Regions from separate parts of the Homo sapiens genome. Here region 2 is linked to region 1. The links come from fine-mapping of genetic effects on gene expression. A gene starts in region 1. The other region holds a variant in brackets. All regions are shown on one strand. Distances are between the middles of the regions.

Region 1 (16,597 bases):
TACAACTTGTAATGGTGACTGAATTGATGACATCACCATTATTTCAATAATACAGATTCATTGAGAGCTGTTCGCTAGGTGCTAGTCACTTGCCATGCGCTAGGTGCTGAGGTTACAATAGTGAATTTAAAAATCCCTGCCTTCTTGGAGTTACCCTCTAGTGTGGGAAGGCAGACGATGTACAAGTAAAAGTTAAACAAATATATAATTTCAGGCAATGATAACTCATATGACAAAAAATAAAGCTGTTAAGAGTATGAAGAATGACAGTGATGGAAGGCTCTTAGGGGGCAACATTTGAATTATTTCCTTAAGAGTAGGTTTGGATTTACAAGCTAGTCACTCGGCAATCAATCATTCAACAAACATTGATTGTCCGCTTATTTGATTTCAGGTGCTGTAGTACAGTGAGTCCTGGGCATAAAAAGATTAATCAACCGTGGCTTCTGCTGTCAGGGCATTTACATCTTAGTAAGGGAAGATAGACATTTCCACAGCAATCTATACTGACATATAACAAGTGTTAGAGCAGTGCAGAAGCACAGATGAACAAAGTGACTTCCCAGTAAGGTCTTCCGGAAGGTATTCCGAAGAGAGAAACGCAGCAGAAGTGGAAGATGAGGGCCACATGTTGCTTCCCAATGTATAAACAAAAAGGGGTCAAGAAAGGTGCAAGAAAGTGACTGCCCCCCAGGGATCTGCCAACCCAAGCCCCACCCAGTTATCCCAAAGCTTAGGGGACCCAGCTCTGCTGTAATCTGTTCTTGGCACAGACACGCTTTTTGTTGTTTGTTTTTTTTCAGTAACTGAAACTACCCTGTCTTTCCCCAGGTCTAGATTCCTTGAGCATTTCTTAGCCCGAGCATGCTTGTGTCCTTAGGTCTTCCGGAAGCTGTAGCGTGCACACAAGTCCTCTCGGCAATTAACACACTTTACAATTCGACCATGATAGACGTCAAGGGTTGAAAATATTTCAGTAGAGAAACTTTTCTGATAAATCCAAACTCTCCCAGAGCAAATTATTCTGACCAACGTTTAAACAGAAGACTTATAAAAACAACATTTAACAGAGTTTGAAGGTTTTATGATGAAATGCATTGTCTGGGATTTCCTTCAGAAATGTAGAGCAGGGAGGGATGTGGGTGAGGGTACAGATGAAACAAGATTGCCCAGGGCGTGACATTGGGTTAGGGTACGTGGGGGGTTCATTAGACTATTCTGCCTACTTTTATATAGTCTAGTGTTTTCCATAATAAAAAGTTTTTGGTTTTGTGTTTAGTTTTATAAGACAAAGCAGAATCTATAAATTCACACAAGTGTCCTGAGAAGACCATGTTCATGCAGAAATCTCAGATTCATAGCTATTTCAAAGTCTACCCACTAGACTCATGACTTTTTTTTCACATGCAAAAAAGAGAGTAGAATGTCCATGTAGACTGATAACTAAAGAGGAAACATATATTTTTAAAGATTTTAACATCCAAACTGTGTTTTAATATTAATGAGTGACTATTTCAGATTAGTGAGTGACTAGCAGTAAAAGTATTCTCAATGCTTTCATCCAGATGGTAAATAACATTTATTGAGTTCCTACTGGGAGCCTGATTTGGTAATTCCTCCTGTTATCTCACTGATGAGATTAAGAGAATATATATGTGTATATTCTTTGTTTTCTAATAATATATATATTCCTATTTTAGAGACCCTGTCTCTAAAATATATATAGACATACACAAACATCTGTGAATATATATAAATATATATAAAAATATGTGTGCGTGTGTGTGTGTATATATGTGTGTGTGTGTGTGTGTGTGTGTGTGTGTGTGTGTGTGTATGTATATTTTAGAGACAGGGTCTTGCTGCATCGCCCAGGCTGGAGTACAGTGGCACCATCACAGCTCACTGTAGCCTCAAAGTCCTGGCCTGAGAATATATTATATTGCCATTTTACAGATGAGGAAACTAAGCCTCAGAGAGGTTGAATCTCTTGTTCAAAGTCACAACCAGCAGAAATAAAGCCCGGGGTTCTTTCCTTTACACCAGTACTTGATTAAAACAGAATTTCTTTCTTCAGAAAGGAGAAGACAACTAGAAAGCAGGACTTGCCCCTCCAAGAAAATCATGAGTTCCCATCATCCTAACTTCTACTCAGTCGGCTTCCTACCTCTTGATACTTAGAGGATAAACTGATACCCAAAGTAGGTCCATTTTTAGGGGGAAAAGTGGAGAAAAAATGAGAAAGCAGGACAAATGGCTCTTTTTTTATTCCCTGAAAACCAAAAGCACTTTTGAACCTTTCAAATGTGTCTTAAACCATTAAAATCTTAAAATGTAAATAGTCTAACTCAAAACTGTTGAAATTACCAAGTGAAATCTCTCTGAAATTAAATGTCATTATTAATTTCATAGGCGTTTCCAAACTATAAAAAATAAAATAAAATGTTTTCAAAAATAGATGAGTAAAAAAAAAAGGAGTTATTTCATTCAGTGCTTTTAAAAGGGTGTTATTATATTTCTTTCCATTTTAAAAAATTACCTAGAGGAAAGCTCCACGTTGGTGTATCAAGAGAAAAATTACTAATTTGGCTATATTCTCCATGGTTTTTTTTCTTTTCTTTCTTTCTTTTTTTTTTTTTTTTTTTTTTTTTTGGTGCTATCGCACCTCTGTCCCCCAGGCTGGAGTGCAGTGGTGCGATCTTGGCTCACAGCAACTTCCCAGGTTCAAGTGATTCTCCTGCTTCAGCCTCCCAAATAGCTGGGATTACAGGCACACACCACCACACCCAGCTAATTTTTGTATTTTTAGTAGAGAGATGGGGTTTCACCATGTTGGCCAGACTGTTCACAAACTCCTGACCTCAAGTGATCCGGCCACCTTGGCCTAGTGCTGGGATTATAGGCGTGAGCCACTGCGCCTGGCCTCTCAGTGGGTTTTTCGAACCAATACATAGCTATATTATATTCTTGACTTGAATATAATCAAGATTAATATTTCCATTAAAATGTCCCAGAAATTTTTATTTATTTATAGGCAACCATTCAAAATAGAAATAGAATGCTGAGTGAAGCAGAGGGATACAGTATATGAGAAGATCAAGCAATTTTAAGTTAGAAGAAAAGGCTGTAAATCTGGCTTTGGTCCTTAAGACCTTGTAAGAGATGAGCAAGTTATTTTGTGAAGGGCAACATCGGAGGAGGCAGAATAAACAGAGGAGGAGAAAAGGACCTTAATGAAATTCAAAGTAAAATTGGGAGGTTGTGGGTAAAATTTCATAACTAGACATAAAAATCACAAGTGGGAACATGTCAGAGTCATTCAAAAAGTAGATACATTTGTGGAAGTGTGTGTGTGTGCATATGTGTATGTTTAACCTGCCTGGCATGTTCAACTGGTTATGATTTTTGAAATTTTAAATTAAGATCTTCTAAACCTCCTGGGAATTTATAAGGCTTAGAGATTGATAAATGGTGTCTCAGATAAAGAGAAGGAGCAAATGTCAGCGCTATGATGATACACAGCTGCTATAAATGAGTGGCTTGATTGCTTGACTTCAAATACAGCACACTAACTTTCCTAAACTCAGTCTGCAAAATGGTTTACATGTCACTATTCTCAATGCCCAGTTTTGCCGAACACTCGGATGATAATGAAAAAGTTTTGCTACAATTTTAAATTTTTCCTTTAAGAAGTAGCATAACACTACTATAAAATATCTGAGGTCTGTCCAGTGAGACCAGTTTAAATATAGCTGGAGTAAAATGGAAAACAATTCAGTTATGGTAAACTTCTATTTCTAGACTTGCACTCTCTTCTTAATATAATAAACATAGTATGTAATTATAAACCTGGGAACAAAGTCCTCTTTATTGAAAGAAAAGCAAATATGTATGCAAATCTCAAATGAGATAATCAACTAAGCATTAATTGCAAAAAAAAAAAAAAAAAAAGAAGTCCCATGGGACCATGGGACCATGGGACCAAACACCAATATTTGGAAGGAGTCCTTGTGGTTTGGAAAAATTGAAACGGGCATAGTCTTTCGTCTCTAGGAACCCCATATGGATGGCACTGCCTATGTGCAAAGTTGCAGGGTGGGGACCATGTGCTGTTTATCATTTTATTCCCCGCACTTAGCAGAGGGCCTGGCACAAAATAAGCACTCAATAAAATGTTTGTGGAAAGAAAGAATTCTACAGCTATAGTTTATACAGTGTTTTTCCAACTTTAAAAGATATGGCCCACAGTAAAAACCACATTTTATACCAACTCCTGGTACACTCAGATACACACACACATGCATTACACAAAAGTTACGAAGCAGCACTTTCTTTAATACAGTAGGCATGTTCTGATTATTTCTGTCCTTTTTGCTTGACTAAAAAATACTGATTATGACTGAATAAATTGATTTCATAACCTACTAAATCAAGCCTTGCAATTTGAAAAACAGACATATTATTTCAGTTTACATTACTTAACCTCTTACATTTATACACTTCACTACCCATAAGTCTCCTTAAAAAAAAAAATCACAAAATTTTTGATCCAGAGGGAATTTAGAAAATATTCAGCTCAACTCTAAAGTTTTGCACCACTTACGAATTCACTGTTGTGGGGTTCCCCTTAGTCACTGTTGTTGAATTATGGGAATTTTCCGACCAAAAAAACAGATTGGCCCCCATCTCACATCATATACAAAATTTAACTCAACATGAATTTAAAACCTAAAGGTAAGAACTAAACCTATAAAACTCTTAAAATAAACATTAGGAGCAAATTTCATGACTTTGGGTTAGTCACTGACACGACACCAAAAGAAAAAACAGGTAAACTGGACTTCATCAAAATTAAAAACTCAAATGACAACATCAAGAAAGTAAAAAGAACCAAGCATGGTGGCATCTGCCTGTAATTCCAGCTATTCAGAAGGCTGAGGCAGGAGGATCACTTGAGCCCTAAAGTTCAAGACCAGCCTAGGCAACATAGCAAGACCTCGTCTTTAAATAAATAAATAAATAATAAATAAATAAATAAATAAATAATTATTTTAAAATGTAAAAAGACAACTTACAGCCTGGAATAATATATTGGCAAATCATGTATCTGATAAGAGACTCGGATATAGACTATATAAATAAATAACTCTCACAACTCAACAATAGAAAGAAAAATAATCCAATTTAAAAACAGGGAAAGGATTTAAGCAGACTTTCTTCAAAAAAGATAAATGGCCAATGAACACATGAAAAGATGCTCAACGGGATAGTCACCAAGGCAATGCAAATCAAAACCATGAGACACCGGCTCGGGCAACATAGTGAGATCCCATCTCTACAAAAGAATACAAAAATTAGCTGGTGTGGTGGCATGCACCTGTTGTCCCAGCCACTTGGGAGGCTGAGGTGGGAGGATTGCTTTAGCCCAGGAATTCGAGGCTGCAGTGAACTATGATTGCACCACTGCACTCCAGCCTGGGTGAGAGAGCAATACCTTGTCTCAAAACAAACAAACAAACAAAACCCCATGAGATATCACTTCATACCCTTTAGGTTGGCTAAAATAAAAAAGACTATAACAAGTGTTGACAAGGATGTGGAAAAACTGGAACCCTGACACATTGCTGGTGGGATTGTAAAATGGTGTGCCCACTTTGGAAAACAGACTGGCAGTTCCTCAAAAACACCGAGTTACCTTATGATCCTGCAGTTCTGTCCCTAGGTATATACTCAAGAGAAATAAAAATATATGTCCACAAGTAACCTTGTACATGAATGCTCACAGCAGCATTATTCATAATAGCCCATAAAAGTAGAAACAACCTAAATATTCATCAATTCATGGGATGAATAAACAAAATGTGGTATATGTGTATAATGGAATATTGACCATAAAAAGGAATGAAATATTAATATAAGCTATAACATGGATGAGCCTCACAAATACTATGCTAAGTGAAAGAAGAAAGTCACAAAGGACTTCATATTCTATGATTCTATTTATATGAATTGTCCAGAATAGGTAAATCTATAGAGAAAGAATATCTCTATCTAGAGTTGGTGGAATGACTGTTAATGGAGAGGGGGTTCCTTTTTGGAGTGATGAAAATGTTCTAAGGGTAGATTTGGTGATGATGGCACAACTCTGTCAATAAACTAAAACTCATTGAACTGTACATTTTATTTATTTATTTTTGAGATGGAGTCTTGCTCTGGGGCTGAAGTGCAGTGGCGCAATCTCGGCTTGTAACCTCTGCCTCCCAGGGTCAAGCGATTCTACTGCCTCAGCCCCCCGAGTAGCTGAGATTACAGGCACGTGCCACCACGCCCAGCTAATTTTTGTATTTCTTAGTAGAGATGGAGTTTCACCATGTTGGCCAGGCTGGTCTTGAACTCCCGGCCTCAAGTGATCCACCTGCCTCGGCCTCCCAAAGTGCTGGGATTACAGGCGTGAGCTGCCATACCCGGCCTGAATTGTACATTTTACTTCTATGGTATTTACATTTTAGATTATATTAATTATTCCTCAATAAAGCTGTGATTTTAAAAAGCAGGCTAGGCGCAGTGGCTGGTGCCTATAATCCCAGCACTTTGGAAAGCTGAGGCAGGAGGATCACTTGAGCCCAGGAGTTTCAGACTAGTCTAGGCAACATGTCAAGACACAGTCTCTACTAAACAATTAAAATTAAAAAAAAAAATTAGCCAGGCATGGTGGTGTGCACCTGTAGTCCCAGCTACTTGGGAGCCTGGGGTGGGAGGATTCCTTGAGCCCGGGAAGTCGAGGCTGAAGTGAGCCGTGATTGCGCCACAGCACTCCAGCCTGGGCGACACAGCAACACCCTGTCTCATGGAAGAAAGAAAGAAAAGAAAGGAAGAAAGAAAAAAAAAAAGCAGATTGGAACTCTGGAATTAACAAGAAGTAGGACGCACGGAGCACTTCCGCCTGAGTGGAGACTGTGGATCCGGGTCAACCTGACTACCTAAATCACAGGCCAATAAATGGTCTTTCAGTGGTCAGTCCCTGTAAGATCCGTGGCTCTCAGCTTCTTATCTTAGGGGCTGTGGAGGAAGGACATGATTATGTTGATTTAAGCGCTGAATATTTTCCCTTGTGATACCCATCCTCGCAAAACTTTGCTTCAACCACAAACGAGGACCTTCTGTACCAGAGGGGCAATAACCACAATGAAGCTAGGAAGAAATGCAGAGCACCCCAGCATACAGTCCATAAGCTTCCTGAAGTGGGGGGCCTCAGGCATCGCTGCCTCCCCAAAGAGGATCAGGCCCAGAACAGTATGCTCCAGAAATAAGACTGGAAAAAGGGAAAGAGGGGCCTCAAGTCCAGGAGACCAGCGGCTTTCTGAACGCGCACCTGCCAACCCACTTTGGACAGGTCACGATGGACAGCGTGGCAGGAAAAGAAAAGGTCACTGTCTACCCAACACATGAGAAACTGTTTCTCGTGCCTCACGTCCCCACTCCGTCCCCACCCATGTTGTCTGAGTCCCTCGGTGTCAGAAACACTGCTAAGAAATTTAAGAAATTCTGTTAATGAGTTTAAGAAATGTTTTTAATGATTAAAAGTCAGTGACTTGTGAATAACCATGTAACTTACAAACGCAAGGAACTCTGAAAGTGTGCAGCACCACCGATCAGAAGAGAAAACCAAGGGACCCGAAATATGCTTTAATTAAATTTTCTTTTAAAATGTCACTGGAAAGAACATCTTGGGAAGACGGCCTGGCCGATCGCCGTGTGAAGGGCAAGCCACTCTGGCCGAGAGGGAGCCCCACACCTCGGTCTCCCCAGACCGGCCCTGGCCGGGGGCATCCCCCTAAACTTCGGATCCCTCCTCGGAAATGGGACCCTCTCTGGGCCGCCTCCCAGCGGTGGTGGCGAGGAGCAAACGACACCAGGTAGCCTGCCGCGGGGCAGAGAGTGGACGCGGGAAAGCCGGTGGCTCCCGCCGTGGGCCCTACTGTGCGCGGGCGGCGGCCGAGCCCGGGCCGCTCCCTCCCAGTCGCGCGCCGCCGCCCCCGCCCCCGCCCCCGCCCCCGCCCCCACCCCCACCCCCACCCCCACCCCCAGCCGGCGCCCGCGCCCGCCCCCGCGCCGGGCCCGGCTCGGCCCGACCCGGCTCCGCCGCGGGCAGGCGGGGCCCAGCGCACTCGGAGCCCGAGCCCGAGCCGCAGCCGCCGCCTGGGGCGCTTGGGTCGGCCTCGAGGACACCGGAGAGGGGCGCCACGCCGCCGTGGCCGCAGGTCAGAGTACGGGTGCCCGCGGCGCTCGGGAACCGGCTGCTGGCTGGGCGGGGAGTGCTCAGGGAGGGGGCGCGGAGGGCTGGGGCCGAGGGTCTGGGGGCTAGGGCCGAGGAAACGGGAACTGACGGGGTCCCAGACGGATGAGAGCTGGGGAGAAGGGGGTCTCGGCTGAGGGGTCCGGGGCTGAGGCAGGGTCATGGTCCGGCAGGACCCGGACTGACGGGTCGCGGGCGGGCGGCTCACGGGTGACCGGGTGAAGGGGTCTTGGGCTGAGGGCACCCGGGCTGAGGGTCGCGTCTACCGGAGCGCGCACTAGGGGCGGAGGGCGCGGGCACAGAGAGCCGCGGCCGGTGCCGACTCGAGTGGACGCGAGCCGGTGCGTCCCGGCTTCCAGGACAGCCCCCCTCGGGAGAGCGCCGGGTGGGCGCGGAGCCGGGGACACGGGGACCTCCGCGTCCCCGGCGGAGGTGCGCAAGCGTCGGGAGCCGCTCCGGGGGAACTTTGGAGCAGGGTGTCTGGACCCGGGGAAGCGAAGATCCGCGTGCGTCCGTCCTGAGGCCGCGCGGCACCCCTGCTGAGGAGGAGGTCCCGTTCGCTGTCCAGAGCCCAGGGGCGACCGCCGCTTGGGGACCGGGGGACCGTTCAGCGAGGGGCGCGCTTGTAGCTGGCCAGGCCCTGTGCCCTGACGCGTTGTGCTGGCCCTACGCCCGGCGGAGGGGCTGGGGACGGGGACTGGGTGCCTCCGTGCCTCCGCGGATGGAGCGCGCAGCCAGGACCCCCAGCCGCACCCCGGGGGGCTGGAAAGGCGAAGTCGCTGCTTTGTGGGCTCCTGCAAGTGCCAGGCGCTGACCACTCCTCCTGGGAGCCTAACTGAGGGGGGTAGAGGCAGCAGAGGTTAACAGAAATCTCAGGTCCCTTGGTGGAAGGTGGGTGTGTAGTCGTGGTACTTTACGCCTCGGTGTTTAGGGAGGAGCCTAAGGTAAGGAGTCAGAAACGGGGAGTAACCGAGCTGCGGCTTTTATATAAGGTCAGTGGTAGGTAAGGAAGGGGCCTTAACCTCTGCTGGTGACCAGAAGCCTGCATTTCTGCATTCTGCTTAATTCCCTTTCCTTAGGTGAGTTGGCTCACTCTCATTGCATTTTGTTGGAATGTGTTGGTGATAGGTCCGAAATTTGCAAAATTATTGTATTATCCTTATATCATTTTTTTTTGCAGTGCTCTTGTTTTATAAGAAGAATCCAATTCACTTGGGTCATAGGCTAACGGTTGTAAAAATAGTGTCATTGTTATAAAAGAAATCAAGTCAAAAATAGTCGTCTGCCATGAAGAAACTAAAATTTTTCTTCTTTTCCTTGCAAGATTAGGGACAAAATGTAAAGTTTATTTGTGTAAATTATCATTTGGATATAAAACCAGACAATGATAAACTGAGTTGTATAATACCTATTCCTGGAAAACCTCTGATTTTGAAGTACATTATTTTAACCCCAACTGTTTCTGTCATTCGTGAGACAAATTGTTAACTGGATTTATTAAGAGAACAATGAATAACTTAACTCTTTAAAAGGACCTGGGCAAATCTTCGACAGGTTTCAGGTATTTTATGGCAGTCTTTCTGTCTATTGCTAAGTGATCGATTGCTGACTGAGAACAGAACCAACTGATGGTGCTAGATGATTTAGAAAACCTTTCTGGTATAGGGACTGGCATGGACATTCACTGTGGCTTTTCTCTTAAAGAAATACCTTTCACTCCTAGGGGAGTTTGACAGAAGACACTCATAGATGCTACCAGTTAGCATTTGGAGTAATATATCAAAACATTCTGTTCAAGTTTTAAAGTAAGTTTTGTGTAGTATATTTTCAATCAGATTCACTTTGGAATCAAATACACTTTATTTGATTCCAAATAAAGTGTATTTGAATATTCACTTTAATATACGAAACTTTAAAGGTAATGTCTCAGCCAAAAAGTGAAGTGTATTACAAAACTGTCCATTTTTGTCTTCTTGTGTACTTCACATAATTTTTCTCCCTGATTTAAATTATATGATATTTGATAGTTAACTTGCTAATAATTATGTCTTAAGAGATCTTTGAATCAACTGGTGGCCATCTCAGTCTTTTAAAACTCACTTGAAGGAAAAGAGAAACACTAATGATGGTTTTTTTTAAAATCAAAAACTTTTTTCATATTTACAAGTTTGTTTCTAGTTCTTAAACAATAACTGCTGTAAAACCATGGCATCAGTGAGGTATAAAGTTTTGTAGAATCCCAGGCTGAAGACTTTTTGGATGTCGTTTTCTCATTTCTTTACATTAAAAAGAATATAATTTCTTTTTAAAATTAAAACTAAAATGTCCACCGGCCTCATATTCTTTATTGAACTTAAGTGCTTTGAAAATATTTTTGCGATTGATATTTTTAATGATAAAATATAATATTTTCTTTGAAGGACTAGTTTCCTAAATGTTCATTTTTTTGTATGTTTCAGAACTACTTTTAAAAAAATTCTAGATTATGCTTTAAATTGCAATATTTCTAAATTCCTATGACATTTAAAATGTGTACAAGAGAAAAGGTGTGACATGAGGAATATGAATTAGAAGTGGATTACTAATGGTCGTAGTGAATTGTTTTTAATCAGTGTTATATAAATATAAACAAATACTTTTTTCTTCTGTAATTTTCTGACAATAAGGATGTTAGCCACTAACCTTAATTATCAAGATAATTATGTGCATGAAAGCTGTGTAAAAGGCACAACCGTGGAACATATACAAGTATTAATAATACATTTCATTTAGTTTTCAGGTTATAAAATCGTTATTAATAACAAGAGGCTTTCATGAAGTAGGAAAATATGTTAAAATGACATTTTCTGAATGTTTCACACATTCTGGCCCACACTTTCACTTCTTTCCTAGCATCTATATATTCCCAATGCATAGGACAGAGTTGGTCATTCTAATTGTGGGTGTCTTTCTGCTGGATTCGTTGTCACTTGGACTTGGAAATACAGTATGTCATTAGGTGTGGCAAATGTACTGGAAGAAGTTTTTGGTCTCATAGGATTCCACTAAATAAATATTAGCTGTAGAGGATTTTTAAAAACTCACTAATAGAGAAAACTTGGTGAAGTCACTAGTGTGTAAGCGTAAACATATGCACCCCCCACAACTGAATTTCTAATTTGCTTATTTTTCCTGGTAGATCTCCACTTTGCTTACTCTCTCTTAATATCCCAAAGCAACAAAAAGCGCAGTGATTTTAATTGCTTACAAAGGTCCTTTGAAACGGATCTAATTTGACTCCACAAAAGAATAGTAAGAGTTGTGAACAACCATCTTGCAAGTGTAGATATCCCCAGCGTATCAACTTCAGTTAGTTTCATAGCGTTCTAAATCAAAAATTTAGATTTAAGATTATTTGAAATCTTCTTGGAAGTTCTTACTTACTGTTTGCGTTTTCTCAAAATACAGAGGTAGATTGGGGGAGTAATATAGTATATGTTTTAAAGCTGTTATTTAACTAAAATGTCATGTTTTAAATTTTATTTAATGCACTTAAAGTAGGTTCTTGGGATAAAATCTATTCAGATGCAATAGGCCATGTTTTGGGGAAAACTTTTGTAGATGTTTAGATAATATCTGTCATCAATAATAGTATATGTTTAAATTATTTTGTAAAAACAGATTTACATATTTTTAAAATTTCTCTTCAACAATAAGTACACATCAATATTTTAATGCCGAGAATTTCATTCAGAGTATGACTGTTTACATTTTCAACTGTTTCAATTATTATGGCTTAGGCAAGTACCTTATCCTTTCTCTCAATTTTGTCATCTTTGAAACGGAGAAAGTGTTGCAGTTATTATTGCTTGCTCTTTTGCTATGATTTTAAGGCTTTATGAGCAAACCCATGTACTTTAAATGATGTGACCATGACCCTGAATTTAATTGAGCTGATATTCTGAAAAGAACCTTCATGAATATCTATGTCATAGCTAACTCTTTTACCAATGTTAATAGTTCACTGTAGTTCAAACCTCAATAACTTTGAGATTGTTAAGATTGAAGATGATGCTTCTCATGTGGTGATCAATTTATAAACTGTTTCTGGGAATATTTTATTATCATTCAATTTAAAATTGTATTTTCCATTCCCTGATGACTTTGGACAAAAATCAGCATAGTAATTATTTTTATTCCAGCTTTGCGAGTCCTGTGTAGCCCCTCTTATGTTAATATTATACATCCGATGCATCTAGAAGGCACAGATTGTGCGCTTTGATTTGATAAAGCTCTAGTCTTTGCATATCTTTATGGCACACCTTGTGAATTCTTAACGTATATTCCCCAGGAGCAAGTTCGTTTTATAATGAGGCCTAGGATCCATCAGATCAGAAGACAGTTTAGTGTCACAACTTAAAAGACTAAATAGTGACTTGTGCTTGTCATTAAAAATGGGTCTCTTTCAACAAGCACTCACCAAAAAATAGTGTTTTAGTGGCTTGAAAGGTTCAGATATCTCCTAATAACCCACCTATTTGCTAGTAGGGAGTAAGTGGAAAAACATATAATTAACTGTGCACCATCCAAATAATAAATTTTAAATTCTTCGCGTGAATTGTTGATACATATTGTTGTGAAGTGTCTCCTGCTTAAGAAAGTAAGGGACTTGGACTGAATATGCCAAAGAGGAGGCCTCTGCAAGCGGTGTCTTGGTGATGGGAAGTTACTGGTAACAGCACACGGGGTGATGGGGTGAAGAGGCTTGTGTGCGTGGGCCCCGGGGGCTGAGGATTGTTGGAGAGGACTTCTCCCACCTTCTCTGGGCCCCAAACTGCACACTGGACTGGCAAGCCACTCTGCCCACTGCAGTGTGGAGCTATAAAGCCCAAGTAGGGACTTCACTAAAAGGATGCAGAGGCGAAGGCAAAGAAAGGCTCATGCTGGTGCGTGTAGGTGGGCTGAGTGTCCCTGTCCGGGAGTGGGGAGCCGTGTTATCTTCCACTGCCTTAATCCTACAGCGTAGGCTTTCTCAGAGTCATTGCCATACCTTCAACTGTTCCAGTGGCCAGGCTGTTCTCAACTTGAAAATCTTTTGTGGGACAGTGCCATGAATTTTTTTTCCTACTGCGATTTTTTAGATATAAAGGAATTGAATCCATTAAGTGGAGATTTTAAACCCTCCAGTCAGGATTTAAACTAGATTGTGTAAGTTCAGTTCAGTTGGATTCAATATCTGTTTAGGAAGCATTTTTATTCCACTTCATTGATTTTAGAAAATAAATTCATTGCTTGGTTTTAACTATGTCACTATTAAAAAAAAACCACTTTAATTTGTGGACTCATCTGGGAGGATTATGTGTGGATATGACATATTGAGTCAGATTATCTGACCTTCTGAGAAGAGTTCAGATTAGCAAAAACGTGGGGTGAGAAGTCCTTCGCAGTTTGCCACAGGTAAGGAGAAGGTAGATATGAGGGAGGTAGAGAAATAGGGAAATACCCTGAGTAGGAATGTACCAGGTCTGTATATGCTCAACTCCCACAGTCAGCAGGTTGCATGATTACTGTGTATAGTCTTAAAATATAAGGTTGATTTCTAAGAATTTACCCTGCTTCTTGGTGACATTGTAGGACATCTCAGTTTGCCACTTAGCACTGTTATTCTTTCTGGCTCTATACTAAAGGAGATAATTTGGGCAAGGGAATGGAAAGAGGTTACTTTTTCATCCTGTATGTTTAAGGAATAAATTTTCCTTCATATCGAGGGCAGTGGAGAAATATAACTGTCAAACTGTTCGAGTGCAATGATGAAGTTCCGGAAGGAACTTCCTAACCTTGACCACACCCCTCTGGCTGTCATACACCTCTTAAAATGTCTTTGAATTTGAATGTCTTTGAATTGAAATTTAAAATGTCTTTGAATTTGAAAGCTTTGGGTCTACTTTTAAAATGCCAAAGTTCCTGGCAGGGTTAGTTCACTAAACCACTATCAGCAAAAATGTGAAAGGCTAGTTGCTTGTTTCCTTGCTACCTGAAAACAAGGCCTTTAAGGAGTAGAAAACAGATTTGGAGTTTGAAAGAGGGGGTTAGGAGAGGGAAAAATAAAGTTAATGCATGTCCCAGTTTCCTCATAAGCCAGAAACTTTGAAACAAAATAGGAAAATAACCATTTGGAATAGCAGTGATAGGAAAAGATATATTTACCCATCATTTTTTTTCTCTTAGTCAAGACAAGTCGCAGATCTTCCTTGAACCATTTTTGACCTCAAAACAGTTATTCTGAAACATCAATTAAACTAAGAAATGTAATCACAGTTCAAGTTATGAGCTAGTATTATCTTAATGTAATTAAATATCTGAATATTATCACTTCATTATATCTTGTATTTCCTCTGTGATGTTAGACAAATTATGTGGTCTCTTCATGAGTCAACTCTTCCAGGCTTTAAAAGTAGCTTCCTAATAGATTGAAATGAGAGGAACTTTTCAATCACTTCAGAAAATGATGTGCCAAGGTAGTATAAATAATGCTTAATCCTTTGGCAGATCCACAGATCATAAAATATCATACATGCGGCCAGTCGCAGTGGCTCACGCCTGTAATCCCAGCACTTTGGGAGACAGAGGCAGAAGGATCACCTGAGGTCAGGAGTTTGAGACCAACCTAACCAACATGGAGAAACCCCACCTCTACTAAAAATACAAATTAGCTCGGCATGGTGGCACGTGCCTTTAATCCCAGCTACTCAGGTGGCTGAGGCAGGAGAATCGGTTGAACCCGGGAGGCAGAGGTTGCAGTGAGCCGAGATCACGCTATTGCACTCCAGCCTGGGCAACAAGAGTGAAACTCTGTCTCGAAATAATAATAATTATTATTATACATACTTAATTTTATTTTTGCTGAAAATAGTATGGCAAGCCAGTGCATCTCTGTTAGAAATAGAAACTTAGTAGCCACCTCAAAAGCAAGGTCATAATTCTGTGAATCAGCTAATAGGTGGTATTTAGCAGTTAGGTATGGGCTACCCTCGTGCCTCATGACTAATCACATTGCTTACTCGTCATGCATTTTTTACAAAGTCTTGCTAAAGTCTGTGAATCTAAAACAGAGAATCTCAAAGTGTTCCTTACTGAATGTTATCCTTTCCGTCAGTTGATAATTACCTGTGTAAACAAGCTTTTGACTGCATCTAGAAAAGCACCTATATAAATTCTTCTGTTTTATATGGTGGATAAAGTTTATAAAGGAGAACAAACATAAGAATGATGTCAATATAAATGAAGTAGAAACTTCAAAAATCATTTGCATATGTCAAGTATAATCCAGAAGAGTGAAGAAAATACCCAGGCATTTGGCAATATAGGATTACTACATGTTTTCCTAAAGAATTTGGAACTGATTAGAAACATCCTGATTTTATTTAAAAGCAATATAATGTATTTTTACAGTTTGTTTTCAAGAAGGTTCAAAAAAAAATTTTTTTTTTTTTTTTGAGATGGAGTTTCGCTCTTGTTGCCCAGGTTGGAGTGCAATGGCGCCATCTTGGCTCACTGCAACCTCCGCCTCCCAGGTTCAAGTGATTCTCCTGCCTCAGCCTCCCGAGTAGCTGGGATTACAGGCGCCCACCACCACACCTGGCTAATTTTTTGCATTTTTATTAGAGACGGGGTTTCACCATGTTGGCCAGTCTGGTCTCGAACTCCTGACCTCAGGAGATCCACCTGCCTCGGCCTCCCAAAGTGCTGGGATTATAGGTGTGAGCCACCGTGCCTGGCAAAGAAGGCTCAAATTTGGTGACTTTTAGGACTAGAGCAGTTTGATGTCTGCAAAAATCTAGACACCAATTTCTTGAAGGCAGGTACTGACTGAATTCTATTCCAGCATATAGCACAATTCTTAGTAGGCACTTAAATGTTTTAGAAAGAAGAAAGAGCTGGTCATGGTGGCACACACCTGTAATCCCAGCACTTTGGGCAGCTGAGGTAGGCAGATCACTTGAGGCCAGGAGTTTGAGACCAGCCTGGCCAACGTGGCAGAACCCCGTCTCTACAATAAATACAAAAATTAACTGGGCGTGGTGGCACACACCTGTAATCCCAGCTACTCGGGTGACTGAGACAGGAGAATCACTTGAACCCGGTAGGTGGAGGTTGCAGTGAGCCGAGAAGATTGTGCCACTGCACTCTAGCCTGGGCAACAGAGCAACACTTTGTCTCAAAAAAAAAAAAAAAAAAAAAAAAAGAATAAAGAATTAGTCTAAGGCAGTGGTTCTTAAAATGTGGTCCTGGGATCGTGAGCATCCTCTGGCAGCTTGTTAG
Region 2 (16,597 bases), 150 kb after region 1:
GAAGCAGCGCCACTCAATCCTGCCAGTCACATTGCTGGAAATGCCACCAACAGTCATTCTTAAGATCGCTTATTACAATATAAATACCCCTAGGGGATATCAGCTAATCGCTTTATCAACTATCGCTTTAAGGGGATTAGGTGTGGATTGAGAACAAAACCCAGAAGGAAAGAGATCCTGGAGGAAGGGGAGGGCTTGGAAGTGGGGAGGATTCGGACGTCCTGTGGCCCCCGAAGGAGACGGGGAATGGCAGGTCTGCTGGATTCCCAGCCTTCAGGAATTCCCATGAACTTCTTGGGGACTTCATGTGTTTAGACCATATTTAGAGAGCGTGCATGTGTTTTGAGATCACAGGTTTTTCTGAGAGACATTGGGAAGGAGGACAGCGGGGGAGTGGAGTGGAGAGAAGTCATACCTGGCAGCTTTTAACTTCACTTACTGCCCTTCATGTGCTGTTGCCATTTCCAGAAGTTGAGGGAGTAAGGAAGGGTAGGAGTTCTTGGTATTCCCTTATCTCTTCCTTTCCCTCCCCTTATCCTGCCCAGAGCATCGCAGGGTAGAGCCACCAGACGGATTCAGGGCATGGAGATGGCAGGTTAGTGGTAGACTTGGAAGGGATCGTTCTTCCTATTTCAGCACCACCCTTCTTCCTCTACCTCCCACCCTGCATTTCCAGCCCCAGTCAGATTCCTTCTTGGACAGAGAAGGAGCAGAAATGTACGTACATCACTAGGCTTAAGGGGGGACTGCAGATGGCTCCCCTGGTCCTGACAAAAAGGTGGGGAGCAAACCGCATGGCTGGACGTAAATTGAGTGACCTGGAATGACTAGAACGACAGGGGGCCTCTAACCCCAGGGTGCACAGAGGTAGGGACCCAAGGGCTTTCCGGGGTCGGACAGAAATCTCGGGTTCCATTTTCACTCTGAGAGACCCAGAAATGACAGAGCCCATGCTCAGTTTCCACTGGTGGTGCTGTTGAGTGGAGGGGCTTTGAACATGGCACACAGGAAAGGGTTGCCCACCCTGTCACCAGATGGGCTTGCACTGTTTTGTGGTTTGGGAGTTGCATATTGGAGGTGGGAGTGGAGTGTTGAGATGAGGCAAGTTGAGATGTAATCGCTATTTAATGGGCAGATCAAAGAAAACATTGGCTGGTTTGATTTTTATTATGGTTATCCCGCTCCACCATCCTGGCCCAGTCATATATATTATTGTTATCAGGCATAGATAGGGGAAGCAATTAAATGTGAAACTGTTATTTAAACCGGCAAGTGTCAGAATGTTAACCCACTTCAGAGCGAAGGCTCTACCAGCAACATGTGTGTTCACTGCAGAATGTGCTGGTTACAGATGATCTTTATCTGTTTGTCAAAGCATTTGCAAGATCTCTATTTTATGTCATCCCCTTTCCCTGAAAGCAGCAGCAGTAAACGACATTGCTCCTCAAATCATCCATGGCTCAGACCTCTGATTAATTTAAGCTGGCCCTGCTAGCGTTCTTATAAATCCCCAGCAAGATGCAGGCCCAGGAGTGGAAAGGGGAAAACATCCGGAAAGCAGCGGGGGGCAGGGAGGGGGAAGGCTGAAGGGAAAAGAAAAAGGCTGAAGGGAGCAATAATTGAGGAAGAAAGAATAGGAAAAATGTAGAAAGGACCCAAGAAAATCAGAGAAATGAGAGGAAAAGAAAGGTAAGAAGAAAATGAGGCAAGTTTACAGAGCAGTAATGAAAATAGTAATAGCTAATTTACTGTACAACAGACACTGTGCTAAGCACTTTCCGTATGTCCCTCAGTCCTCTGACCAACACTATGAGTTAAATTACCGCTACAGCTCCAATTGTTAAAGTGAGGAAACTGAAGTATAGAAAGGTTAAGGAACTTGCCCAAGGTTACCTAGCTTGCAAAGTTGTAATTCCAACTGCGTCTCACTCAGCTGGCAGTGTGCACCCTTGGCCACACATTAGAATCACCCAAGAGCTATTAAAAATCCTGAAGGTCATACCCCAGGCAAGTGAATCAGAATCTCTAGGGATGGGTCCCAGGCATTCGTTTGCTTTTTTAGTCTCCCCAGATAATTTTAATATGTAGCCAAAATTGATAATCCCTGCACTAGACCAAGCTCCGATTCAAATTTAAATATTAAGAGGACACATGTATAACTTTGCTGAATAATTTTTTCCTATCGGTAGGATGGTGGGAAGGAATTGCTATAGGCCACACCATGATACTTTGCTGAATTGGATCAGAAAAGTACCCTCAAATTCCCAGCATCATTTCTTCAAGGAAGTAGTGAATTGGGGCACCGTGGGTTTTTTGTTTTGTTATTGTTCTTAAACCACCTTGCCTATGTGCACTCAACTACAGGAACGAGAACTTGCCTGAAACCCCAAACGTGTCTGCATCAGGCATTATTTTTCTTGAGCTCCTGAATTTCTGCTCTAACCAAGAACAACTCAAAAACCTTCAATTTCATAACTGTTGATATGCCACCCACTCCTACTTACACTCCTGACCCCAACCCCATGGAAACTGCCTTTATTCGAACAAACACAAGAATTATAATATGTTCTAAAGTTCCTCTACCTATTTCATTCTCACCATACGCTTATGAAAGAAATGTCATTGTCTTGAAAACTAAGCCTAAACCCAGAAAGATTAGATGATTTGTCCACAGGCACACAGAAACTAAGTGGAAGAGAAACAGGACTCAAGTCTTCAGTTTCCCAATCCACTGCCTCCTAGAACATGCCTGTGAACTGAGGGAGCAGTGCAATAAAGGAAACTTGAGAGGAAGCGCAAAAGGAACTTAAATTGCAAAGTACTGGGTTCCCTAAGTAGCCCTGCCTCCCCTCCAGTTTTCAGCCCACACCTGAACTAAGGTCTTTCATTGTCTGTGGATCAATTTACAGCTGCCCTGCAATCACATTTGTTTTGTTTGTTTGTTTGTTTTGGTTTTGAACGCCCTAGGGACAGTCGGTTTCAGATTAGTCTCTATCAGAGAGCCAATAGGGAAAGATGCAGAAAGCCAGGAGAGCAGCTCCTAGAATAGAGACAAAACCACCTGCATTTTTTCTGCCTCTTCTTCAGGAGACTCCACTGTGGTCATCTGGTTCCCTAATTGAGACACCTCCTGAGAAAATCTGTGCTAGGGAAACACCCAGCCCAGGTGGGCAGATCTCAAGAGGACCAGAACGTTTGAATCTGCTTCAGATAAACCCTCCACTTAACAGTACCAGATCTGGACGAGATGGAAGCTTTGTAGATTTGCCCATAATCCACAGTGCTCTGTAATCAATTCCAGGACCGTGTGGATGGAGACCGGAAAGGTTTCTTTCCCAATTCTTCACAGCCTGGGGAGTAGGGAACTAGTAATTGACTCCAGCCTCCTCGAGTGCTAAGTCCTGGAGTCTGAGTCACACACACTTCCCAAAAGGGCCTTCTAAGCAGCCTACCCCAGCAGAGAGGACCCTTGGCCCTGGCCCTACTCCAGACTCAACTGTAACCTCAGCAAGGTGCAGGGAGAGGATCTCAGGTGGGCCTCCTGGCAACAGTGCCTTTTCAGGCACTAGGCTGTTGGGAATGGAGAGAGAAGAGAAAGGCCCTGGCACTGTCTGGGTATTTGGATGGATTTCTGTGGCACAACTGTGGCACCTGGCTTAGCTCAGTAAAGGACTGAGTGTGCGTGGAGCAGAAAGGGGAAAGAGACTAGTGGGGAGCTGGTGACCAGTTGGAGGGTGGAGGGTAGGGAACAACCCTGGCAGATCCATTTTGCCCTTGACTAGAGCTTAAAGACCAAAGGAAGCGTTCTTGTTTTTAAGTAAGTCAGGTGTTCTAAGTTTAATGTTAATATGCTTTTTCAATTAGATGTTTGAGTATATTTCCCCAGTTGAATTATGTAGAGGGAATTACAAATGAGAATACATCTTACAATTTTTGAATTAGAATCTTTGAGATTATCTATTTAGTCCGGTCTGTTTTGTTTAGACAAGAAAATTGAGCCCATTGATCTTAATCAGTTTGCCCAAGGTCACAGAGCTGGTGAGTGAAAGCTTTAGATGTAGAATATGCAACTTTTCTCTGCTGCCCTCCTTCCCTAAACCATCTTGCCTTAACGGAGGCTCAGTCAGGGGGACAATGGGACTGATCTGTAAATGATCTAACTTGTCATTGCAGAAAATATACTTACTCCGTGGCCACAAAATTTCAGCCCTTCAGCCAAGCTTCATCCATCACATCATAAAGAATAACTTGCCAAAGAGGGGTTTGAAAATCCAAACCAGATCCCTCTCCACTCCTAGAGAGGCCAGTTCCATGACACTGCACCGGAGCCAAGTGTTTCCAGCAAGCCCTGATCAGTTGCATGTTAGTCCTTGTTTGTATGATAAACGGGACCTAGTAGATTAACATCATCTCCTCAGCCCAAGGGCTGACCCCAGTGGTGCTGCTCAAGAGGAAGGAGGAGGCTGGGAGCGGTGGCTCCCGCTTGTCATCCCAGCACTTTGAGGGGCTGAGGAGGGCAAATCTCTTGAGCCCAGCATTCAAGAGCAGCCTGGAAAATGTAGAGATTCTGTCTCTACCAAAAAAAAAAAAAAAAAAAAAGAAGCAGGTGGAGGAAGGAGGAGCTGCAGAAAGGCTCCGGGAGCCAGTGTCTAGTAAGCAGAGGCCTAGCCCAGGCTGAGTGGTCCCAGCCCAGGAGGGCCTCTCTCGGCACCTGTCTTTAGATGCACGTCTGCCTCTGGCCTTTGAGATGCACACATTCATCAAGCAGGAGGATCTGTAGTCATTAAACCAAGGTGCCAGTCTGGGGCCCAGCCTTCAATGAAGCATCAGTGGCTTTTTCATTCCCATAGAGCAACTGCGAGGAAGACCCCATGCTCCCAGGGGCCCAATTCTCCAGGCCAGGACCAGATCATTTGTTCCTTCTCAGAATCTGAGATCTTTTGCTGATGGTTCCAAAATTGAATGCTGAAATCTAAAAAGAAAATTATACTTACTCTGGTCAATGGGATATGTTGGAGACCTGAGAGTGAAAAAATCAAACTGAAGACCAGTTTCCTTCTTTAATGGAAGAAAAGTAAGAAAGTTAACTTAGAAGAATATTTAGAGTTCTGAAAATCCCACTCTGAGACCACTCTGCCATCTCACATTGTTCTCTTGAGCCTTATCTCAATGGATAAAGGTCACTAGAGTTTATTAGACACAGGAAAACATCGTTTACAGACTTCTTCATTGTGTAGGGATTCTGCCTTCAGGCCTGTTCACCAGCCAGGAGAATTGTGCTTTTTGATCCAGGGCTCTTGGCCAGAACAGCCTTCTCGCTCATTAACTCAGTCAACCAAATGCTTCCTGTGTTTCCACTGGTGGTTCAGAACGTAGTCTCTGCCCTCTGATACCTCACGGTCTAACGGGGGAGAAACAAGAAAGTCAGAACTTACAATACAAGATAATAAGGAATAAGAGCAGAGCCTTTGGAACCAGACAGACTTAGATCCAAATGTCAGCTCTGCATTTACTAGCAAGTGGTCTATCTTGGTAAGATGCAACTCTTTTCTCTAAGTCTTAATTTCTCCCTCTGTAAAGTATGACCTCATGGGGTTATTGTGAAGATTAAATGGCATATCGTATATAAGGCCCTTGGCACGATCTTTGGAAAATAATAACCATTCAGTGAATGTAATCTACTAGTATAGTAGCGATTGAGGTGTTTATAGGGTGCTATGAGGGCCCAGAGAAAGGAGATGAGATGAACAGGAGAGAGGAAGGGATACTGTTGAGGAAGGATTTCAGGATGGAATCCCACCACAGGCTGTATTTTGAAGAAATGGTTGAAGTCAATAAGAAGAGTGAAGGGAAGGTGAGAATGTTTCAGGCAGGAAGAATAAAATCTGAATAAGTGCAGAGTCCTGACAGAACATAGGGTGTTTGAGGAACTTGGTATGGAAATAGATTAATATGGCTTAACATGGAGCAAAATGAAACAGAACTGAGACTAGAGGATGACCAGGACCAGGTCATGAAGGACATTAAAGGTGGGTAAAACTCATACCATGAAGGAGAGAAGAGTTACAGTTTTTAAAAGAAAATAAATAGCCTTCAGGAGCTCAAATTTGAAATCAATACGAGATAGATGATCAAGTGAATGTTCTGTCTTCTTGATGAGCCTGACTGAGAAAACCTTATAATCTAACCCAAGGCAACAAACTGAGAAATTAGAAAATAAAACTTAGAGATTAGAAAACAAAAACTGAAACCCAAACTTTTTACTTGGAAATTTAAAAACATGCTTCTATATAACTCTTAGGTTAAAAATGAAATCAAAATTGTAAGACAAGCTGTTTAGAAAAGAACTATGAGAGTACCGTTTATCAAAGCCCATGGGATGAAACCAAAGTGGCACTAAGAAGAAAATGTGGAGGCTTCAATGCATTTATTAGAATACAAAGAATACCAAATCAAATGAATTAAGCATTCAACTCAAGAAAACTAGAAAAAGAGAAGAAAGTAAACCTAAAGAAAGTTTTAAAAAGGAATTCAATAAATTAAAAACAAAACACACAATTTTTAAAAACAGACTTGATTAATAAAACCAAAAGCTATGTCTTTTTTAAAAAAGCAAAAAATAGATAAACCTTTGACAAATCAGATTTTTTTAATGAGAGAATGCACAAATAAAGAGCTCTAAGAGCTGGGCATGGTGACTCATGCCTATATTCCCAGCACTTTGGGAGGCTGAGGCAGGAGGATTGGTTGAGGCCAGGAGTTTAAGACCAGCCTGGGCTACGTAGCAAGACCCCACCTCTACAAAAAATTTCGAAATTAGTTGGGTGTGGCGGCTCATGCCTATAGTCCCAGCTACTTGGGAGGCTAAAGCAGGAGGATCACCTGAACCCAGGAGTTGGAGGCTGCAGTGAGCCATGATCATGCCACTGCACTGGGCAACAGATTAAGACTCTGTCACAAAAAAAAAAGCGTTAAGTTAAGGAGCGTGAATAAAAATAATACATTTCATATTCTAAGACAATATCATCTACAACTTTATTCCAATATAAATTACTAAAACTTTACCATATAAGTAGTAGAAAGCCTGAATAGATAAAAGCTATGGAAGAAAAATTAAAGATAGTGATAGATTTATCACCAAGCTCAGATGGTTCTGCAAACAAATTCTAAGAAACCGTCAGGGAACAGATCATTACTGCGTTGACACAGAAGGCAAACCTCTCAACTTGGTGTATAAGGCTAGTTAACATTGTTACTAAAACAGGCAAAGAATGGCCCCCAAAATAACTCTAAACCAGTATCACCTACAAATACAAAAACTCTATATAAAATATTAGCAAGTGAGTACAAGAGTATAAGGAACTCTATTAATGTAATTCACTGTGCTAGGTTAAGATAAAACCATAACTCTTCAGATATCATAGCTCTTTAGATAGAAAAATGTAAAAGTATTTGATAAAAATTCAACAACATTCCTGACTAAAACAAATTAAAATTGTAAAACCCCTGGAAAGCCAGGAGTAAAACATGTTCTCCATAATCTATAGCAAACATCATAGTTGCTGATAAACCATTAGAAGCATTTCCTTCAAAGTTAGGAATAAAACAAGAATTGCTACTATTGCTACTATTATTTAATCCCATATTGGAGGTTTTAGCCAACACACTATGGCAAGAAGAGGAAATGAGAAAGGTTAATGCTGCAAAAGAAGAAATAAATAAAGCTACCATTGCTGATATAATTATCTATCCAAAAAAAGTAGAAATCCATGATTAAAAGCTATTTGAACTGATAAAAGTTCAGAAAATTGGAATTGTTTCAATATACTAAAATCAATTAGTTTTCTGCACATCAGTGGGGATATATTAGATGTAATGAAAATGAAGGGTCCATTCACAATAGAAGCTATAAAGTATTTGAGAATAAATCTAACAAGATCTACATAAAGAAAAAAGTAAACTGCTTAAAAGTAATTTAAGTTCACCATTTGCAAATTGAACTAAAGAAAAATCTAAAGAAGAACTAGTGAAAATTGCTTGCAATCTTACCACTGAAAAGAAACCTCTGTTAAAATGTATCAGTATTTTAAAACTGTGTTTTGTCCTTTGGAAATATGCCATATTAAGCAAACATAGCATAAGCAAATTAAGCAAAAAGACAAACCTTTTTTTAAAAGCATATTTGTGAAAAAAGCATATTTGAAGCTATGATAAGAAACTGAGTAGAAGCTATAAAACGTAGATTCATCAGGAAGGAGCAGAAGTTGAAAAGGAGATTTCTGGCTGGGCACAGTGGCTCATGCCTGTAATCCCAGCACTTTGGGAGGCCAAGGCGGGTGGATCACTTGAGGTCAGGAGTTTGAGACAAGCCTGGCCAACATGGTGAAACCCTATCTCTACTAAAAATACAAAAATTAGAAAGGCGTGGTGGTGAGCACCTATCATCCCAGCTACTCAGGAGGCTGAGGCAGGAGAATAGCTTGATCCCGGGAGGCATAGGTTGTAGTGAGCCGACGTCATGCCACTGCACTCCAGCCTGGATGACAGAGCAAGACTCCATCTCAAAAAAAAAAAAAAAGAAAAGAAAAGAAAAGGAGATTTCTGAGTAGAAACACGTTAGCAGAGGAAACTTCATTTGGGGAACAGGATTGTTTTGATGCCATGCTCCCTCAGCTGACCACACAGATTACATCCTGGCCAGAAAAAGGCCCTGCAAAGAGCTCTGATCATTTTGGTTCTGATTCCATCCTTAGTTCTTACCCATTATCTGCTTACCCTTCCTCCCCACCTATTTAAGATACAAAGCAAAACAAACCAAAAATACAGATGAGTTGCTTGGTAGAGCTGCCTAGGCCTCCAAGGCGGGGCCCAGAGGATTTTTTGACTGAACCCCCTGTTGTGTTTTCCATATGTGCTTCCCCAGACCGCCCAGGTTTGCTGAATGTGAAGCCCATTGAAGACATTCAAGACAACCTGCTACAAGCCCTGGAGCTCCAGCTGAAGCTGAACCACCCTGAGTCCTCACAGCTGTTTGCCAAGCTGCTCCAGAAAATGACAGACCTCAGACAGATTGTCACGGAACA[C/T]GTGCAGCTACTGCAGGTGATCAAGAAGACGGAGACAGACATGAGTCTTCACCCGCTCCTGCAGGAGATCTACAAGGACTTGTACTAGCAGAGAGTCCTGAGCCACTGCCAACATTTCCCTTCTTCCAGTTGCACTATTCTGAGGGAAAATCTGACACCTAAGAAATTTACTGTGAAAAAGCATTTTAAAAAGAAAAGGTTTTAGAATATGATCTATTTTATGCATATTGTTTATAAAGACACATTTACAATTTACTTTTAATATTAAAAATTACCATATTATGAAATTGCTGATAGTATTTGAAGACTGAGTCTTGTGTGTTTCCCACCCTAGCCCCCAGGCTTTCTTTTTTACCCCTTTTCCTTCTCCCCTCCCTCCCTCCATCCCTCTCACTCTTCCTCCCTCCCTTCCCTCCTTTCCTTCTTCCTTTATTTTTCTTTTCTTTCTTAGACATTTTAAAATATGTGAGTGGAACTGCTGATACACTTTCATTCTCAGTAAATTAATTTTTTACTCAATTTACAACTTTTCGGAACTCTGCATCTGCTTTAACAATCAGAACTAAGAAGGGAAGGGGAACTTCAGAATCAGAAACTGCTCAGAGCATGTGTTTTGTAGCCTGGATGTGCTGATATGCAGCATATCCCTGGGATTACCCAGAATTCAGTCTTCTTCCACAATCCTAACCGAGATTTTCACGCACCACCAGCAGCCTACTCGTATACTACCTACTAATCAATGCCACTGCGCACCCACAGAGCCAGTGGCCAGCAACTGAGCACTGCTAGAAACTCTGGGGAACACAGAACTTTTTTAAGATTTGGTATCTGCGCCAGGCATGGTGTCTCAAGCCTTTAATCCACGCACGTTAGGAGGCCAAGGTGGATGGATCGATTGAGCTGGTCTCTTGTTCGAGACCCTGTCTCCACAACAGTTTTAAATATTAGCCATGTGTGGTGGCACACACCTGTAGTCCCAGCTACTCGCAGGCTGAGGCGGGAGGATTGCTTGAGCCTGGGAGTTGAGGCTGCAGTGAGCTGTGATGATGCCACTGTATTCCAGCCTGGGCCACAGAGTGAGACCCTGTCTCTAAAAAAAGATAAAAAAGATTTGACACCTGCCAAAAAGAATTTACCGATTATAAACTGAGGAGAAAAGATTAATCTTTTTTCATACAGATTCAAATACGCAGATGAAATCACATGCCAGGTGAATGGTAAGAGTTTGTAGGAAGTAAGATGAGTGAAGATTGGAATCCCAGAGACTGAATCTGTGGATTTGCTGAAGAGGGCCTCAGGGAAGTGTTAGACTGGAATAGGTAGAGAGGAGGAGAAAAGACATTCCAGAGAAGCAAAATAACAGGAACACAATGAAAGAAAAAAAAAACTGAGGGAGAAGAGCTACTTTCTGTTTTCTCCTTCTGCAAGGCAGTTTTGCTGTGATTATTCCTGTCCTCCTCCTTGGGACCACTCTGTCCAGAGATCTCTTTTCTGAACTGAGAGGCTAACTATCCGCATCATTAATGGAATGCTTGCCTCCCAAGCAGATAGATTCTAAGTTCCCTGAAGGCGTGACAATCTATTCATTCTTGGCACAGTGAATAGATTCGTTGATTCAATCCACCAAATTCACTTGCATTGGCTACTCATGAACTCATCATACTATGTCTTTGAAGAATGCCTTACGGGGTGTCTAAGGGAGAGAATAGAGTCATGGGTTCTCCATTTCTGTTTCTGACTGGGCCAATAAAGCCCCTTCCTCATCCCTCTTTTCCACTTACCACTAGGGACAGAAATTAAAAACCATGGCTTCAGGCTACTAAAAGCCTAAACCAAACCAAATCAAACCAAACAACAACAACAAAATAAGGCAGGTTGGACAAGCTTACGAGTGTAACCAAACTATCTGGAGGTGTCTGTTGTGCGGGACGCTTATTTCCACTGACCTAAATTTCCCTGCCACTTCTCCCTTAATTTATCTTGCCTTAGGATATTTACACTCAGGAGACATAACTGCAGACTTGAGGTTTTCAAGCCAAAATATCAAGAAAGACCTGTTCATCTTTTGCTTAAAAATAACTATATCTCCAAAGAATCAGGTTATAGAAGTGAGTACTGACCCCAGCCCTAAAAATGTAGGATTCCTAACCCTTCAGGAGAGACCTTTCTGAGCTCAAACCTTTAGGATGACAGATAGACAAAGACTGAAGCCATTGTCTAAGTAACACCAAAACATTTGGAAGGAAAGTGACAAATTCAGTCAGTCATATGGCTCTTTTTTTTTCTTCCTTGATGCCAAACATCAGGATATTTTGAAACTTATTTTCAAACACCCAGATGACTGGCTAGAGTCTTCTGTGTAGAGAGCTGATGGTCAGGGATCTCTTGGAAGAGAGAATGTACAGGCAGTAGACAAGATAGAGTCCACTTCTGAGGCGCTCCCTTATTTACAAGCTTTCTTGAACAAAAAGTCTTTCAGCCCCGCTGCCTGGTCTCAGTTCCCACCAGCGCTCCGCAGCCCATCCAAGCCTTTCCACATTATCGGAGCTGTTGCTGCCAATGGAAGGAGGAAGAGAAACGCTCTCAGCTCTCTGGCACTGATGGTTAGCATTAAATGGCTTTTAAATCCTGGCAGCTTTCAAATTCCCATCTCTGACTTTTTCCCTGTGGCTTGGAAGATCATTTGCTAAATATTTGACAACACTTTATATTCAGCCTCCAAAGCTCCTGCTCCTTTCTCCCTCTTTCTCTCCCCCAGGATGAATCATAAGTTAACGAATCTGTCATCAGTTATTCATAGTACTTTCTCTGGACACAAACACATGTAGGGATGTGTGTTAATAAAAATAGGAAGAAAAGTAACTTTGGTCAAGAGTCAAGAAAGGGTTTCCAGGCTCCCACAAGAGCCCTCCCCCAGCACCTCCCTGGAACGGGCTCCCTTTTCCTTCCTCCCGCTGTGTGTGGAGCCCAGGAACGAAGAGGGGACACACAGAAGAAACAAAGCTGCACACCCTGTTTCTCCAGCCGCCATAAGAAATTAGGCTGGCCTGAGTTTCTGGCTCCTTTTTTACAATGTGGGTGCAGAGCAAGGAGCCTAGGAGGCTCAGGGTCGGAAGAGGTGGCAGCACTAGCTGATGTCACATAGCGAATTTCCAACTAGAGGAAGCCAGAGGGGCAGCTTCACCACCTCCACTGAGGGGCAAAGAGGGAAGGGGACAGAGGCATCTGTGGCGGGCTTTCTTGGTGGCTTCTGGACTCCAGTGACTTTTTCTTGGCTCCCTCGAGGCTAAAAAGCAGGTATTTTCCTGGACAGGTCCTCCTTGCTTGACATCACCCGCTGACCGTGTGGTGCTGATGGAAAGAGCTGGGTGAGAGAGGGGCTGGATGTTGGCCTCTGGATACCCATTCCCTTGGAAATACCTAGTGGAGATGGGCGGGTGCGGGGCTCCTAATTCTACATCCTGAGAGAAAGAACCAAAGCTCATTTCCACCATGCCCATCCCCATTGCTTTCTGGTCCCCCTTTTCCTACTCATTCACTCCAAGAGTTTGGGTTATGAGACAGGAGGACCAAGATGCCTGATGGTCACTAGGTGGCCCCCTCCCTACCTTCTGCTCACCCCCTCATCCTGGTTCTTGACCTCAGCCCCTGGCTGTCTCTGCATCATGAATGTTGTTATTTGCACGTCTCCACCCTGACCGTGGGATTGCACCTGGTACATCCTCCATTTAACACCAACTGAAAAGAAATAGCAGGGTTTTAAGAATTCAAAAGATCATACAATGTCCCAGAGCCCCACCGCATTCATTAAACACATAATCCATACTCCAGTCATGTCTAGCAGGTTATGATGGTGACCGCGACTAGGCCCTGCTCTCAAGGGGGGCACAGTCTGTGGATGAGTAGTCACAGCTCAGCAGACGCAACAAGTGCCTAGAGAGGTGAAAGGATTTGCAGAGCGTGTGCATAGGCCCAAGAGTGTGAAATTCTCCAAGCGTTCAGAAAACGGCCAGGTGAGGGGCGTGGCCCACAGCTCCCAGGCTAAAATGTGGATGTGGCCAGTCAGCGGCAAATTGTGGGAGCCTTGTCCTCCCTGACGAGGAGCTCTCTCGGGCTGTGTTGGTAGCAACTGGGATCCGGGGATGCTGCCAGGCAGAAGAGAGACATGGTCAAATTTGCAATTTGGAAAGTCAGCGCCCCGAAAGTCAACACTCCCCAAAGTAGAAATTCTCTCTACAATGCTCCTGATGGTTGCCCAACCCACAGACAACTACTGAAGAGACAAGAAGCTCTCTCCCCTCTAAGGCCCTGGGTGATTTCCACCCCGCAGGCCTGGCTCTGCCCCTGGGCTCACACTTACCACATGCTTGCTCCTGCACCCTGGGGGCTCCAGCTCACCTCCTTCCCTTTCATCTGGTCGCAATATCTTGCCTCAATCATAAACAGCTTAAGGACACTGGCCCTATCCCCTGTTGATATCCATTCCCTACCGTTGCTCATATTGCCCCAAGCTACAAAGGCCCTCTGCTTCCAGGAGCTTCGTTTCACCTTCTTAATCTAATTCATGGAGATCTCATGGTCATTTTTATCCACATATGTCAAAGCCTGCCTGTCCCATATCTCATGTCCAGAAAAGGCCTGCATTGGTCATAGACCTCAAGAAAATTAGAGGCTGGGCACGGCGGCTCATGCCTGTAATCCCAGCACTTTGGGAGGCTGAGGCGGGCAGATCACCTGAGGTCAGAAGTTCAAGACTAGCCTGGCTAATATGGTGAAACCTCGTCTCTACTAAAAATACAAAAATTAGCTGGGCATGGTGGCGTGTGCCTGTAGTCCCAGCTACTCAGGAGGCTGAGGCAGAAGAATTGCTTGAACCCAGGAGGCAGAGTTTGCAGTGAGCCGAGATCGCACCACTGCACTCCAGCCTGGGCAAAAGAGTGAGACTCTGTCTCCAAAAATAAAAATTAAAAAAAAGCATATTAAAAACAAAAGAGATTATTATATAAGACACTTAGAACTGTGTGTAGCACACAGTATGTGTTCAATAAATAGCAACTATTATTGGAGACGGCACCCTGGGGTGGAATGCAGAGTTACGCTGATTTGGGTTAAAAGTCTAACTTCACAGCTATGGTTCTAGGTCCATATGGCTTTGGCCAATCTCTTAATCTTTCTAGGCCTTAATTGCCCTCATATGTAAAATGAGATAATATCCACCTTAGAGGGCTGTTATGAGGCTTAAATGTAATAATGGTTGTAAAACACTTCACACAGGTTCCCGGTACATCCAAACCAGTCGGTAGTGTTGGCTGCGGGTAACGTTATTGCCGCGGCTGTTAAAGTGCCCCACCTTTAAGGAGGCATTCTGGGCCCACGGGACAGGTCTTCCTGTGCAAGTGTTCTGGACCTCACCTGAGGAGCCTGGAAACTCAAAGCCGGGATTGAATTTGGCACTTGGCAGTAGAGTAAAAATACATTCTCTCAAAAGATTTTGCCTCCAATCTATAAGGATTAGGAGAAAAAAACAGTATTTGAAAGACAACTGCTGTGTTCTGATTTAGAACACATGCTCAGGATGAGGCTACAAAAACATTCTCTCCCCAAGTAGTGGGACTTTTCTCTTGTGACTTACACTCCTAATTTTAGCCTAATATTACATAGTTGGAATTTCCAGAGGGGTTATAAAGAATAAGAAAATTGCTAATTTGAGTCTGTAGGGAGTGGGTTGGGATATTTTCATCCCCTCCGGAGCTGTGTAAATATGTTCCAGGCCAAAAGTTCCCAGGAGAGTGTCATTCCTGGGGTCTATTTAGTGCCACGGGCTTGACTCAAGGAGGATCCTAGTGGCTTCCCGCAAGAGTTGGAAAATTGTGATCCCCTGGCCATTTTTCCACAATACTGGAAGCCGGAAAGTGTAGGTTAGAGCCCCCATTGTCCGTTTGAGACTTAGCACTGCCATTTTCTATGTATGTGGCCTTGGGTAGGTCACTTTCCTCTCTGGGGACATCATACCTGGCCTGTAGAACTATCTCAGCAAATTACATCTAATTCCTTCATGATGAATGGGCCTCAGTTTCCCTAGCCATAAAATGGGAATAGCAGCACCTACCCTGCATGTTTTATAGAGTAAATGAAAAAAAGCAGGGCAAGCCTGATCACTACTCTTTACAGATAAGAAAGGCCCATAGAGGTGAAGGAGCTAGGCCAGAAAAATGGAGAGGCAGGGCTGAGGCTGGACCTCAGGCTTCCAGAGGCCCACCCCTGCTAGGGCTCTTTCTTGGTATGCTGTGCTGTCTCCAGAATAACCAAAGACAGTGTTGCCTGGTTGGCAGAGCAAAAGCGTTAGGGCAGGAAAGACTAAAGTTTGACTTTGGTTCTGCCGCATACTATCTGTGCAACCTTAGGTAAGTTGCTTCCTGTCTCTGGGCCTCAGTTTCTTCATCTAGTTGGCGAAGTCCCCAATTCCTATCTGATAGAGTTGTTGTGAGAATGAGAGGTCATAAGTGGATGAAGTGCTTAAGTCCCATAAACTATTAAAATCTTCAAAAGACGAGTACCTCCAACCTCACAGGATTTGCTAGGAGCTCATCCTGGCCAGGGGACATTGGTAACCAGCATCCACCACCAGAGAAGAAATCATGAGACTCTGCCCATGAGGACCTGTCCAGTGTTGCCTGGGTCTGATAGGGGTTTGCAGTGGGACTTGGGAAGTCACTTTCTCAGAGCCTCAGTTTCCCCATCTCCACAGAGAGCTGGTCTGCCCTTCTAGCTCTGATATCCCAAGGCCTTGGGGGCCTCCAGGGGAGGCTGGCAGGAAGAAAGAGCCCTCTCTGGCTGACCCTCGGAGGCCTGTGTTCTCTGCTGCCTGTGCTTGCATTCAGCCCTCCTAGCGACCTAGGCCTGGACCAGGCAACAGCCAGCACTTATTAAAGGCCTGGGGCTGGTCCAGCCACCTCCAAGGGGAGGGGAGGGACACCGGATGGATGGCTGGTTCCCACCCAAAGCCAAGCTGCTCAGAGAGGGGCGTTGTGCTGAGTCAGCGGGTTGGCAGCTCCTGGCCCGGGGTCTCTGGCCGCCTGAGCCTGCCAGATGGGCTGGAGCCAGGAAGGCCTCCGAGGAGCCGGCGTGTTATCGATGATGCTGCCGCTGCTGCCACAGCAGTGGGAAACGTGCCCTGGAAAAGCCTCTCCCCAGCCAGGCCTCCCAGGGCTGCAGGGTGGGGGACGGTTGCTGGGGAAGGAGGAGTTTTAGGAGTTGCCTCCTACTGTCAAGATTCTAGCCAGGGCTGCCCCCCTCGTGTCCCCTGTCTCCCCACTCTGTCACCTCACGATAGCAAGTATTCTCCAGCACCAAGTACAAGCTTTACTTATAAACTGCCCTCTGTCTGCTGAATCCTTCCACAAGCCCGGTGAGGTGGTTTATGGGTCAGGATCCCAGCAGGGGGAAATGGCACACTCAAAAGAGACCATTGAGGAGCGTGTCATGCAGAGACTAGATTCAAAGTCGTGGGAGGG

Direction of the effects. Positions count from the first base shown, and alleles are read on the strand shown. Sizes are in standard deviations (SD) of each study's normalised expression.
In carriers of allele C in region 2, the expression in rectum of the gene that starts at base 9,311 in region 1 tends to be higher than with T alone (moderate effect, 0.68 SD a copy in CEDAR).

What was found.
Region 2: its variant is fine-mapped to the expression of PPARG in rectum (CEDAR, PIP 0.95). The same link has a PIP of 0.9 or more in monocytes, monocytes after LPS and transverse colon.

Annotation. Positions count from the first base shown.
Region 1 is chr3:12,279,760-12,296,356 of GRCh38, forward strand. PPARG (peroxisome proliferator activated receptor gamma) reads left to right here and starts at 9,311. Exons shown (of 8, transcript NM_138711.6): 1 at 9,311-9,375. RefSeq lists an enhancer at 7,294-7,872.
Region 2 is chr3:12,424,975-12,441,571 of GRCh38, forward strand. It overlaps PPARG (peroxisome proliferator activated receptor gamma), which reads left to right. Exons shown (of 8, transcript NM_138711.6): 8 at 8,924-9,370. The coding sequence ends at 9,171. Among named protein-coding and RNA genes, the nearest start is that of TSEN2, 51 kb to the right of the region's middle. The variant C/T (reference allele first, on the strand shown) is at 9,084.